Linked DNA regions of Homo sapiens: region 1 is linked to region 2. The links come from fine-mapping of genetic effects on gene expression. Tissue or cell type: whole blood. Region 2 holds a variant in brackets; the other region holds the start of a gene. All regions are shown on one strand. Distances are from middle to middle.

Region 1 (5,114 bases), 110 kb after region 2:
AAACCCTGTCTCTACTAAATACAAATAAATAAATAAATAAATAAATAAATTAGCCGGCGTGGTGGCACATGCCTGTAATCCCAGCTACTTGGGAGGCTGAGGCAGGAGAATCACTCGAACCCTGGAGGCAGAGGTTGCAGTGAGCCGAGACTGCACCACTGCACTCCAGCCTGGGTGACAGAGCGAGACTCCGTCTTGAAAAAACAAAGATAACAGTCTTTGACTTGCAGGAGAAGGACCAGCTACTGCTCCACATGCCAGAATGCAGTTCTGCTGCCAGGCAAGTCACAGTGGACACTGGGACATGGAGTCAGTCCAGAAACACCCAGAGGTGGCTGGCAGAAAGCTGGGATTCTCCACGCCCAGACCAGATGCTGCCCGGGGGGCTCTGGAGGCATGTAGCCCTGTCTTCCCCTGACAGGCTCACCAACCATATCAGGCAAACAACTCAGACACAACAGCCTGGAGGGCTGCACGGGAGGGTTTGAAAATTCCTTGATCAAAAAAAAGTTGTTTTTTTTTTAGAGATGGGGTACTGTTGTGTTGCCCAGGCTGGAGTGCAGTGGTGCAATCATAGCTCACTGTAATCTCAAACTCCTGGGCTCAAGTGATCCTTCTGCCTCAGCCTCCCGAGCAGCTGAGACTACAGGTATGCACCACCATGCCCAGCTAACTTTTAATTTTTTTTGTAGAGACGGGGTCTTACTATGTTGCCCAGGCTGAAAAAATTTTTTGGATATTTTTATTCCAAAGATAATGAATATGAAAAACACAGTGTTTGCTAAGCTAATCTAAAATTAAACTACTGGTGCCACTTTGTTTCAAAATATACATGTTGTTTTCATTTTTCTACCTACTTGGTAACGTTTCAGTCAGCCTTTCTTTTCCAAAGCACTAAATGCTTGTTTATTGTAGATTAAACAGATGACACTTAGAAATGGCCATTTTCTTTCATGTGTTATTCAATGCTGGAATGACGCTAAACTTTTTGTATTTGAGATTTTTTCCAACTGTGGTAACGTCTGCACACATTAGATCAAATGTGCAGTTTTTTGTTTTTGTTTTTGAGACGGAGTCTCCCTCTGTCGCCCAGGCTGGAGTGCAATGGCGTGATCTCGGCTCACTGCAACCTTCGGCTCATTGAAACCTTCGCCTCCCAGGTTCAAGCTATTCTCCTGTCTCAGCCTCCCAAGTATCTGGGATTACAGGCATGTGCCACCACCCCCGGCTAATTTTTGTATTTTCAGTAGAGATGGGGTTTCAGCATGTTGGTCAGGCAGTTCTCGAACTCCTGACCTCAGGTGATCCACTCGCCTCGGCCTCCCAAAGTGCTGGGATTACAGGTGTGAGCCACCACCCCCTGCCAAATGTGCGGTTTTTGTGAAACGCAGATCTTAGGTGTATAACCTGGTGGATGTTTTTAATCACCTTGCAACCAAGGTCCCTATCTAGTGTCGAAGCCTGGGAGTGGTGAGTTGTGTGCTTCTGAAGACAGGTGCAGTTGGGTCAGAGTTTTTAAAAACACGATAAAATGTAAAAATACGGAGTCCCACCGTTCCCTTCCGATTCTGGAGGATCATTTTGCTTTGTTACACTTTGCTTCGGTATCGAGTTTTTGAGTGTGGGGAACTTTCCGGCCCGGGCTGACAAGGGCTGCCAGGGCCAACGCCGTGCGCTTCTCATCCACGGATTCTCTACGGGAACTGCGCCGGGACCCAGAGGGTCGCCCCGCCCGCGGCCGCCTGCACCCGCCCAGCGAAGCCCTGCCCCGGCGGGAACTTTAACCAGGACGACCCAGCCAGACGCCCCCTCTGCGGGGGAGGCGAGGGCGGTGATCTCCGGGCCCACCGGACTCACCTGTTTGAAGCAGAAGGGCATGGTGAGGACACTGACCCCTACGATGCTGTTCACGATGTTCGTGATCAGCCCCCAGTTGGAGGCGGCGGCCGCGGTCATAGTGAGAGGTCTAGGGGCCCGGGGCGAGAGGCCTCGGGGGTCGCCGGGCTGCGGCCGGCTTTGGAAGCCCAGCCCGAGGCCACGGTCACAGGTCCCAACGTCCGGGACGCCGGTGGGGAGGGGATGGGCAGCCTGAACACGGGAGCCTGAGCAGGCGCGGGCGCGGGCCCCAGAGGCTGCCTGGAGGAGGCAGCCTCGAAGGCCGGCTGCGGGGGCGAGGTCAACCTCCGGACCCCGCCAAGCCCTGCGGCCGCCTCAGGGCCATGCGTCCCTCGCTCGGCCTCGCGGGCCGCCTGTGAATCTCCGAGCCCAGACCCGGAAGAGCCGCAGAGCCAGCTAGGGACACCTCAGCCCAACTCAGCTGCCGCCGCGGCGCTCACACTTCCGCCTTCCACGGGCTCCGTTGCCCGGAAGTGACGGCCAGGGGGTAGGGTTTGGTGGGACGCGAGCCAATGAGAGGCGGGCCCGGAGGGGCGGGCGGAAACTGGGCCGGTGGGCACCTGAGGGTCTCGCAGCTGTCCGGTTCGCCAAGCTGGTCCAGCCGACCTGTGCCCGGGGCCCCAGTTCAACGAGCTGGAGGACAAGGGACTCGCCCCGCGAGGCCTCGGTTTGGATGGGCAGTCGCGGGCTGGAGAGAAGGGGAGGCGCTGTGCCTTCCGGGGAGGAGCGGGTTTAAGGGTTCCTTTTTGACCTTTATTCCCAGGACCGATTCTGGGGCGAGTGCTTGGCGCCAGGGCACGGGGGCGGGGGCCCTGACTGCCTCAGCCGAAAAATAGTCTGTTGTGAGGAATTAGCACCTAGGAGGTAGGAATGAAACGCTGGGCACAGAGAGGCTCGGCCACTCCGCTAAGGCCACACAGCTCCAAGGGGAGGCGGTGCCCTGCCGAACTGCGCCCAGATCAGTGGCAATGTTGAACTTCACCTTTTCACACGAAAAGAGCAAGGGACATTCCTGGAGGGGACAGGAGAGGTGGAGGCTTACATGAACAGGGAAACCCGGGAGGGCTTCCAGAAGGAGGTGGCTTCTAGGCTGGAGCTTGAAGGACAAATGAGAATTCCTCGGGTAGAAATGGAGACCGGGGAGAGGAGAGAACAGAGAAGGGTCCCGATAGATCTGTGGATTCCTGGCACCTAGCTGCTCACTCTGAGTCTAATGAATGAGCGCGTAGACCGAATGGCTGGGAAGCAGCAAGTGATTCCAGGCTGCTGGGGGAGGACGGCGGAGGAAAGGAGGCCGTGTCTGCAGCACCTGCAGGACCAGGTGTCTTAGAACAGAGGCCCGTTCCTCAGGCACTGGCAGTGCAGCCACCAAGTAAGGCTGTGCCCCACCTTCAGGAGAACAGGAGGAAATGCCTGGGTAAAGACTAATTAAATACGCAGGCAAAATAACAAATGCCTGCGTTCTTTTTTTTTTTTTTCTTCAGTCAGAGTCTTGCTCTGTCGCCCAGGCTGTATATGCAGTGGTGTGATCTTGGCTCACTGCAACCTCCACCTCCCAGGTTCAAGCTATTCTCATGCCTCAGCCTCCCAAGTAGCTGGAATTACAGGCTCCCGCCACCACACCCGGCTAATTTTTGTATTTTTAGTAGAGACCAGGTTTCACCATGGTGGCCAGGCTTGCCTCAAACTCCCGACCTCAGGTGATCCGCCCACCTCGGCCTCCCAAAGTGCTGGTATTACAGGCATGAGCCACCGCACCCAGCCCATTTACTTTTATATAAATGAAATGGCATACACATTCCATAACCTCCTTTTTATTATGTAATTTTCATCAAATGTTATGCATGCGAGGTAGGCTGGGCAATTTACATGTATGTTTTCACAAATAGCAAATACCATGGACCCGCTATTGAGCTTTAAGAACAAAATATTACCGAAGACTTAGATCCTCCCTTTCAGTTCCTCCCCAGTTCCAGCACCTTCTTCCCCTCTTCCCTGCTATCCTGAGACATCACAATCCAGATTCCATCAATTCATTACTTTTCTTTAAAGGTTTACCATATATGGATATATCCCTAAACAATTATGGGGAAGACTATTTGTCTCTTTTTTTTTTTTTTTTGAGACAGAGTCTCACTCTGTCACCCAGTCTGGAGTGCAGTGGCACAATCTCAGCTTGCTTCAGCCTTTCCCTCCTGGGCTAAAGTGATCCTCCCACTTCAGGCCCTCAGTAGCTGAAACTACAGGTGTGTGCCACCATGCCCAGCTAATTTTCACTTTTTTTGTAGAGATGGGATTTTGTCATGTTGTCCAGGCTGGTCTCAAACTCCTGGGTTCAATCGATCTGCTCACCTCGGCCTCCCAAAGTGCTGGGATTACAGGCGTGAGCCACTGCGCCCAGCTGACTCTCTGTCTCTTAATATTCGTTTATTCCATTTTCCAAATTAATAGGAATTGGCCTGCACGTATGACTGCCTAGGATAAAAAATACACTTCCAGCCGAGCATGGCGGCTCACACCTGTAATCCCAGCACTTTGAGAGGCCGAGGCAGGCAGATCACGAGGTCAGGAATTTGAGGCCAGCCTGGCAAACATGGTGAAACCCCATCTCTGCTAAAGATACAAAAAATTAGCCAGGCGTGGTGGCGCGCACCTGTAATCCCAGGTTCTTGGGAGGCTGAGCCAGGAGAATCGCTTGAACCCGGGAGGCAGAGGTTGCCGTGAGCCAAGAGCGTGCCATTGCACTCCAGCCTGGGCAACAGGGCAAGACTTTGTCTCAAAAAAATAAATAAAAGACTGGGCGCGGTGGCACACGCCTGTAATCCCAGCACTTTGGGAGGCCAAGGTGGGTGGATCACGAGGTCAGGAGATCGAGACCATCCTGGCCAATATGGTGAAACTCTGTCTACTAAAAATACAAAAATTAGCCGGGCGTGATGGTGTGTGCCTGTAATCCCAGCCACTCAGGAGGCTGAGGCAGGAGAATCGCTTGAACCAGGGAGTCGGAGGTTGCAGTGAGCCGAGATCGCGCCACAGCACTCCAGCCTGGCGACAGAGTGAGACTCCGTCTCAAAAAAAAAAAAAAAGAATACACTTGCCAGTGTCCCTTGCAGGTAGGGCTGGCTATGTGACCAAGTTTTGGACAATAAGAAGCAGAAATGACAGGAGAAACTTCTAGGTCATTTCTTAGGAGGGGGTCTGCCGCTCCTTCATCATGC
Region 2 (5,180 bases):
CCCCTGGGGCCCCGCCAATGGCAGATGACACTGTTATTACATTCATTGTCACCTGTCACATATCATGACCGTCACCTTCATTAGTGAGGACAATACCCTCCCACCTCCAACATGAGCAGAGGCTACCACGGCCTATGTAAGAGGCCCGGGCAGTCCTGTGGCTTCCAGTAGAAAGCCAGGCCCCCCCGACCCCGGCAGACAGCCCCATCCCTGGCTTCCTCACAGGCCTGCGGTGCCCAGCATGACCACCCCACAGGGGCAGGGCTGTTGGCACCACCCTCCCTGGCAGAAGGTAACCGTGCCCCTGGTGTATTCAGAGCCAGCCAGGGATCACCTTGGCCCTCCCTGCTCACCACCAGGGGAGGGTGGTTTGGGAGGAGGACGTGGCTTGGATAAACTTTGTCCCATATGAACTTGGAGCCTCCCCACCCCCACCGGCCTGCAGGCTGTGCTGTGCCCCTTCCACCCGGCCCAAGCCCGCAGGCTGGGCCGCAGCACCCACTCGGCTGCCCCTTCAAACCCCACTCACATGTCTGGCCCTGCAACCTGTTTCCTGCACCAGAGCTGGGGGGGGCAGGGTCCCCAGCCTCAATCTCCCTGCACCACCCCCACCGCCCGCAGCCCCTCCCACTGTGTACAACCCGCTGCACTGGAGGCCCGAGGCGTGGGTTCCAGCACCATGACCTTGGGCAGGTCCCTCAGCCCCTCTGACCTCAGGCTTCCAGCTGCTGTCTGCCCAGCTGGCCTCGGTCACCTGCTCACTGGCTCACTGGTGCCCTCTCTTCCTCCCTAACCCCGCCCCAGGTTTGGGGAGGCCAGGCACTGCTAAGGGTCAGTCTGCCCAGACCAGTGTGGACACACCAAGTGCCTGCGAGCCCCTGGGAGCTGCCCGTGCCAGGCTGGAGTGCCGGGGAGGGGCGAGGACAGCTGCAGCCCCGAGATGTAAACAGGCTTGCAGGTATAAAAGCTGGAGCCCCTGGGCCTCTCCACACCCCAGCCTGACCCACCTTCCAGAACTCTCGAAAGAAGCCAGGCAGAGGTAAGCCCTGCCAAGGAGGGGGGTGTGGGTCTCTGGCCGCTGAGGTTATCCGAGCTGGATGGTGGGAACTTGGAGGCCTTCTCTTCATCCACAGGACAAGGGTGGCCCTGGGAGACCCCAGGGGACCCAGGGGAGGTGGGGAAATGGGGTGGAAACAGAAGGAATGGCCCTCCCTGCCAGCAGCACCACTACAAGCCCCAAGGGGGCCCCCGGATGGAAGACAGCTGCAGGTGCCTGGTCCTGCGGGGAGCACATGTGTGCACGTGTGTGCTGGCACGAGCCTCTGTGGGCACGGCTACAAGAGGCGGCTGTGAGCTGGGGCCTCTGCATAGGGAGCTGGACCTGCTCACTCTGTCCCTAGGCCCCCAGGCTCTAAGTGGGGATGGAGATGGGGTGGGGCTGGCAGGGCAGCGAGTCCAAGGCCTCTGGCCCCCGGACTCCAGCAGGCACACAGAGCCGGCTCTGGTCCCCACACTCTGCCCCTGACCCAGAGGGACCCCACTGCCTCTATCACCCCTTCCCCCGAGAGGCCTCTCTCATCTCAGCATCTGCCCTTGGAGACTGGGTGGCAGAGGCTAGTTGCTGTGGGCAGACCACAGCTTCCGAGAATGGAAGGTCGGGAATGGCCCGGAGCAGGGCATCCCAGATGTAGCAATGCTGGGGCGGTGTGTGGTCTGAGGGGTCTTAGCCCAGCCTGGAGGCTCCAGGATCTCTAGCTGTGGAGGGTGGGTAAAGGGAGTGGGGAAACAGAGGCCTTTTGGCAGGGCCTTTCCTGGCACTGAGGGCAGCCCCCAGAATCTGAGCAGGGCCCAAGGACAGCTTGTGTGGCGTCCCGCAGCCTCCCCCGGCCGGACATCCCAGCTCACTGGGATCCCATTAAACTCCAGCCCGGGCCGCGGATGCACGAGCTATAAATAAACCAGCAGCCTGGAGCTCCAGGCCTGCCTCCCACCCTGTCTCCAGCCCGGATCTCGGGCTCCCCTGCCTTCGTTGGGGGCACCCCTGAGAGCAGTGGGATTGGGGGTGGTGAA[C/T]GAGCCCAGCCCAGGGGCACCCCCAGCACTGGGCAGATGGGACATTGGTTCCTGGCTTGGCCACATTTAGCCTGGAATTCGGCCCAGCCCCTCCTCTGTAAAGGAGGTGACATTGGGCCCGGGGCCCCGAGTGGTAGGTGGGTGTTCCCTCTTCCAAAACAGGTCCCCAAGATGCCAGGGTTGGGGAAGGTGAGCCAGAGTCCCAGCTCTGAATGAAGTGGGGCGGGGCCTGTCCTGAGGGCCTCCGAGGCCCAGTCCTGCCCCACATGCCCGCTCACCACCACCCTGCTGGCTGGGGGAATCAGCCACTGCAGGGGCTGTGGGGGCCCAGCTCCAGCCCCACAGCAGCGGGCAAGCCCATTCCCCACCATCTCCCTTCCCTCCTGGCTCCTCGCACAACCCTGTGAAGGGGCAGGCGTCTCCCCACATCACATGGCAGCTGGAGGCACCGAGGGTTGGGGAGCAGGACCTGGTCCAGGGGCTGCAACTGGCGCTCCTCACACCTCTGGGGCGCCAGGGTTGGGTTGCAACCCTTGACCTATGGCCTCTCTATCCAGAGGAGAGCAGAGATGCCTCTGGCCACTGCTCAGCCCCACTCGAGAACACAGGCCGCCCCTCCTGGCAGCAAGAGCGTTCCAGAAGGCTCTACCACCCTGTGAACTTTCACGAGGGCCAAGAAGCCCAGGACACCCGCTTCCCCTTGCGCTCTGAGATAGCTGCTGTGCTGAGCCCCAGAACCCAACCCCCCCTGGGGACGGCAACCTGAGAGCCCAGCAGGTCACAAGGCGCTGCCGTGAGGCGCACAGGATGGCCCGGCCCCTCCCGCTGACCCCTCTGCCTGTGCCCAGACCCCCACCTGCCTGGCTGGGATCCCAGCATGTCTCGGGGCCCTGGCATGACCCCAACACTGTGACGCCTGTCACCATTCCCACTTTACAGCAGGATCCAGCACCACGCGGCGTCTACGTCTGCTCTGGCCCAAGCAGCACCCCCAATCCGTGCGTGCACCCCACGAATTGACTCCCTATCCACCCAGGACCAGGATGGAGGAGGACTTCTCCTCCCAGATGAAGAAGATGGCCTTGGCCATGGGCACGTCCCTATCAGACAAGGACATTGAGCTGCTGCCCACAGACATGAGACACCACGGTACAGCATGCCCCCGCCCGGCGCGGCCCCCCGCCCGTCCAGCCCCGCTGTGGTCAGGAGACCTCATCCCTTTTCTGGGGCTGATGGGTCCAGGACACCAGGACCTGCGGCGGGCGGGGACATGGGGGTGCAGGACCCGGCAGCCCCCATCCCAGGGCGGGGTCTTCCCTGGAGGCCCAGCTCAAGTGAGGTGGGCCCCTCCGTGAGCCCCGCCTGGTTGCCCCAGGGTCCTTCAACTACCTCAAGTTCTTCAAGCACATCCGCAAGCTCCACGCCTCGGGCCAGCTGGACGACGCCATCCACACGGCCTTCCAGTCCCTGGACAAGGACAAGAGTGGCTTCATTGAGTGGAACGAGATCAAGTAATGGCTGGCGGCCACGGAGGGGTGGGGCCCAGGCCACCCAGACCACGCCGAATGCCCACATGGCGGACCCGGCCTTCCCCCACCGGGTCCCCGCTGGCCTTGCAGCTGGCAGGGCTGGGCCAGAACCAGCTAGAAGCCCAGGAGGCTCAGAGGCCCAGGCTCCCGGCCCGAAGTGCCCTTGCCTACAAGGTGGGGGGCGAACGGCTCGTGAGTCACTGGGCACTGGCCGGAAGCCCCTTGGCCCTGACTCGAGCCCCCTTGGCCCCAGGTACATCCTGTCCATCATCCCCAGCAGCGGGCCCACCACCCCGCTGACAGACGAGGAGGCCGAGGCCATGATCCAGGCGGCAGACACACACGGGGACGGGAGGATCAACTACGAAGGTGGGGGCAGCACAGCCGGGGCACCCTCAGGACCCTCCTTCCCCTGCTAGGCCGCCACCCTTGCCCATGGCCCCGCCCCGAGGGCACTGGCACACAACTCACAGATGAGGAAACCCAGGCTCAGGGGTCTGGGCCGGGAGTCTAGGTGCTCTTCCCTGGGCCAAGGGCCCCACTGCAGAGAGGTGGCCAGGAGGGCTTTGGGAAGGCCAACTGTGGCAGAGCCAGCGGGTATGGGGTCTCAGAGCTCGGGGTGCCATCTTCTGGGGGACCCACGGTCTTTGAGGCTCTCCATGGCTGCCCTGAGGTCTGGGCCATCTCACCCCCACACAACCCCAGTGGCTGGCCACAGGCCTGGAGGGTGGAGGGCACACAAGGTGGGCTGGGCCTCCAGACACCGCTTGCCCAGCCACCGGCCGTTCTCATCTGCCTGGGTCTAGAAACCCCAGCAAACCTGGCTTGTGGCGGGGGGGTCACAAGGCTTGACAGGCATCCTGACCCCTCTCAGAACTCAGGCCCCCCAGCTGCTCCGTGCCTCAGTTTCCCCACTGAGAGATGATCATCAATGAGCACCTGCTCTCAGAGGGTCTGGTGGGAATTCCTGAGAGTCTCTGCAGAGAGCCAGGCCACTGCAAGCCCCCAGTCCCCAGCTGGGGTCAACTTGTGACGACCAAGCAGCTGGGCCCAGGACAAACAGCTCCAGCGTGGGGCCGCCCCCGGCCAGATGGGCTGGAGGCCTGGTCCCTGCTCAAGGACTTGGGGACAGGACCCCCTGGACTGTGTAGTCCAGGCACACTCCCTCTGCCTCCTCTGAGAGTTAAAGGGCCTACAGGAACTGGGGGACACAAAACAGGGGTACTTACTTTAAATTGGTCTCCTGCTCTAGAATTTTCTGAATTGATCAAAAAGGAGAAAATTCCAAAGAAGAAGTAGCACCATGACTAGCCCTGGCCAGCCAAGGGGCTCCCATGGGGTAACCGGGGTGACCACGCACCTGGGCAGAAGCCGTTGGGGCCGGTAAGAGGCGGCAGCCGTGAGGGTGGACCCAGCTTTTGAAGGAAAATGGAAGAAAAGCAGCATTAAGTGAATGACGCAGCCTGGTGTGTCTGTTGGGGATGCTGGTATGAACTGGGGTGGGGGCAGCATCAGGGCCATGGGTGACAACGGCTGGGGGGCAGGGTGGGCGTGTGAGGGTGGGAATGAAGACGTCTTCTC

The links. PIP is the estimated chance that this variant, and not a neighbour inherited with it, causes the effect.
Region 1: SLC38A10 starts here. The variant in region 2 is fine-mapped to the expression of SLC38A10 in whole blood (TOPMed, PIP above 0.99).

What each region holds. Positions count from the first base shown.
Region 1 is chr17:81,292,966-81,298,079 of GRCh38, forward strand. It overlaps SLC38A10 (solute carrier family 38 member 10), which reads right to left and starts at 2,342. Exons shown (of 16, transcript NM_001037984.3): 1 at 1,858-2,342. The coding sequence starts at 1,956. LOC124904082 (a long non-coding RNA gene) reads left to right here and starts at 4,941. Exons shown (of 2, transcript XR_007065941.1): 1 at 4,941-5,114. RefSeq lists silencers at 1,818-1,887, 1,988-2,257 and an enhancer at 2,918-3,007.
Region 2 is chr17:81,178,114-81,183,293 of GRCh38, forward strand. It overlaps PVALEF (parvalbumin like EF-hand containing), which reads left to right. Exons shown (of 7, transcript NM_001354639.2): 3 at 805-1,039; 4 at 3,010-3,219; 5 at 3,446-3,581; 6 at 3,853-3,968; 7 at 4,852-5,053. The coding sequence starts at 3,114. The coding sequence ends at 4,898. Among named protein-coding and RNA genes, the nearest start is that of AATK, 14 kb to the left of the region's middle. The variant C/T (reference allele first, on the strand shown) is at 2,071.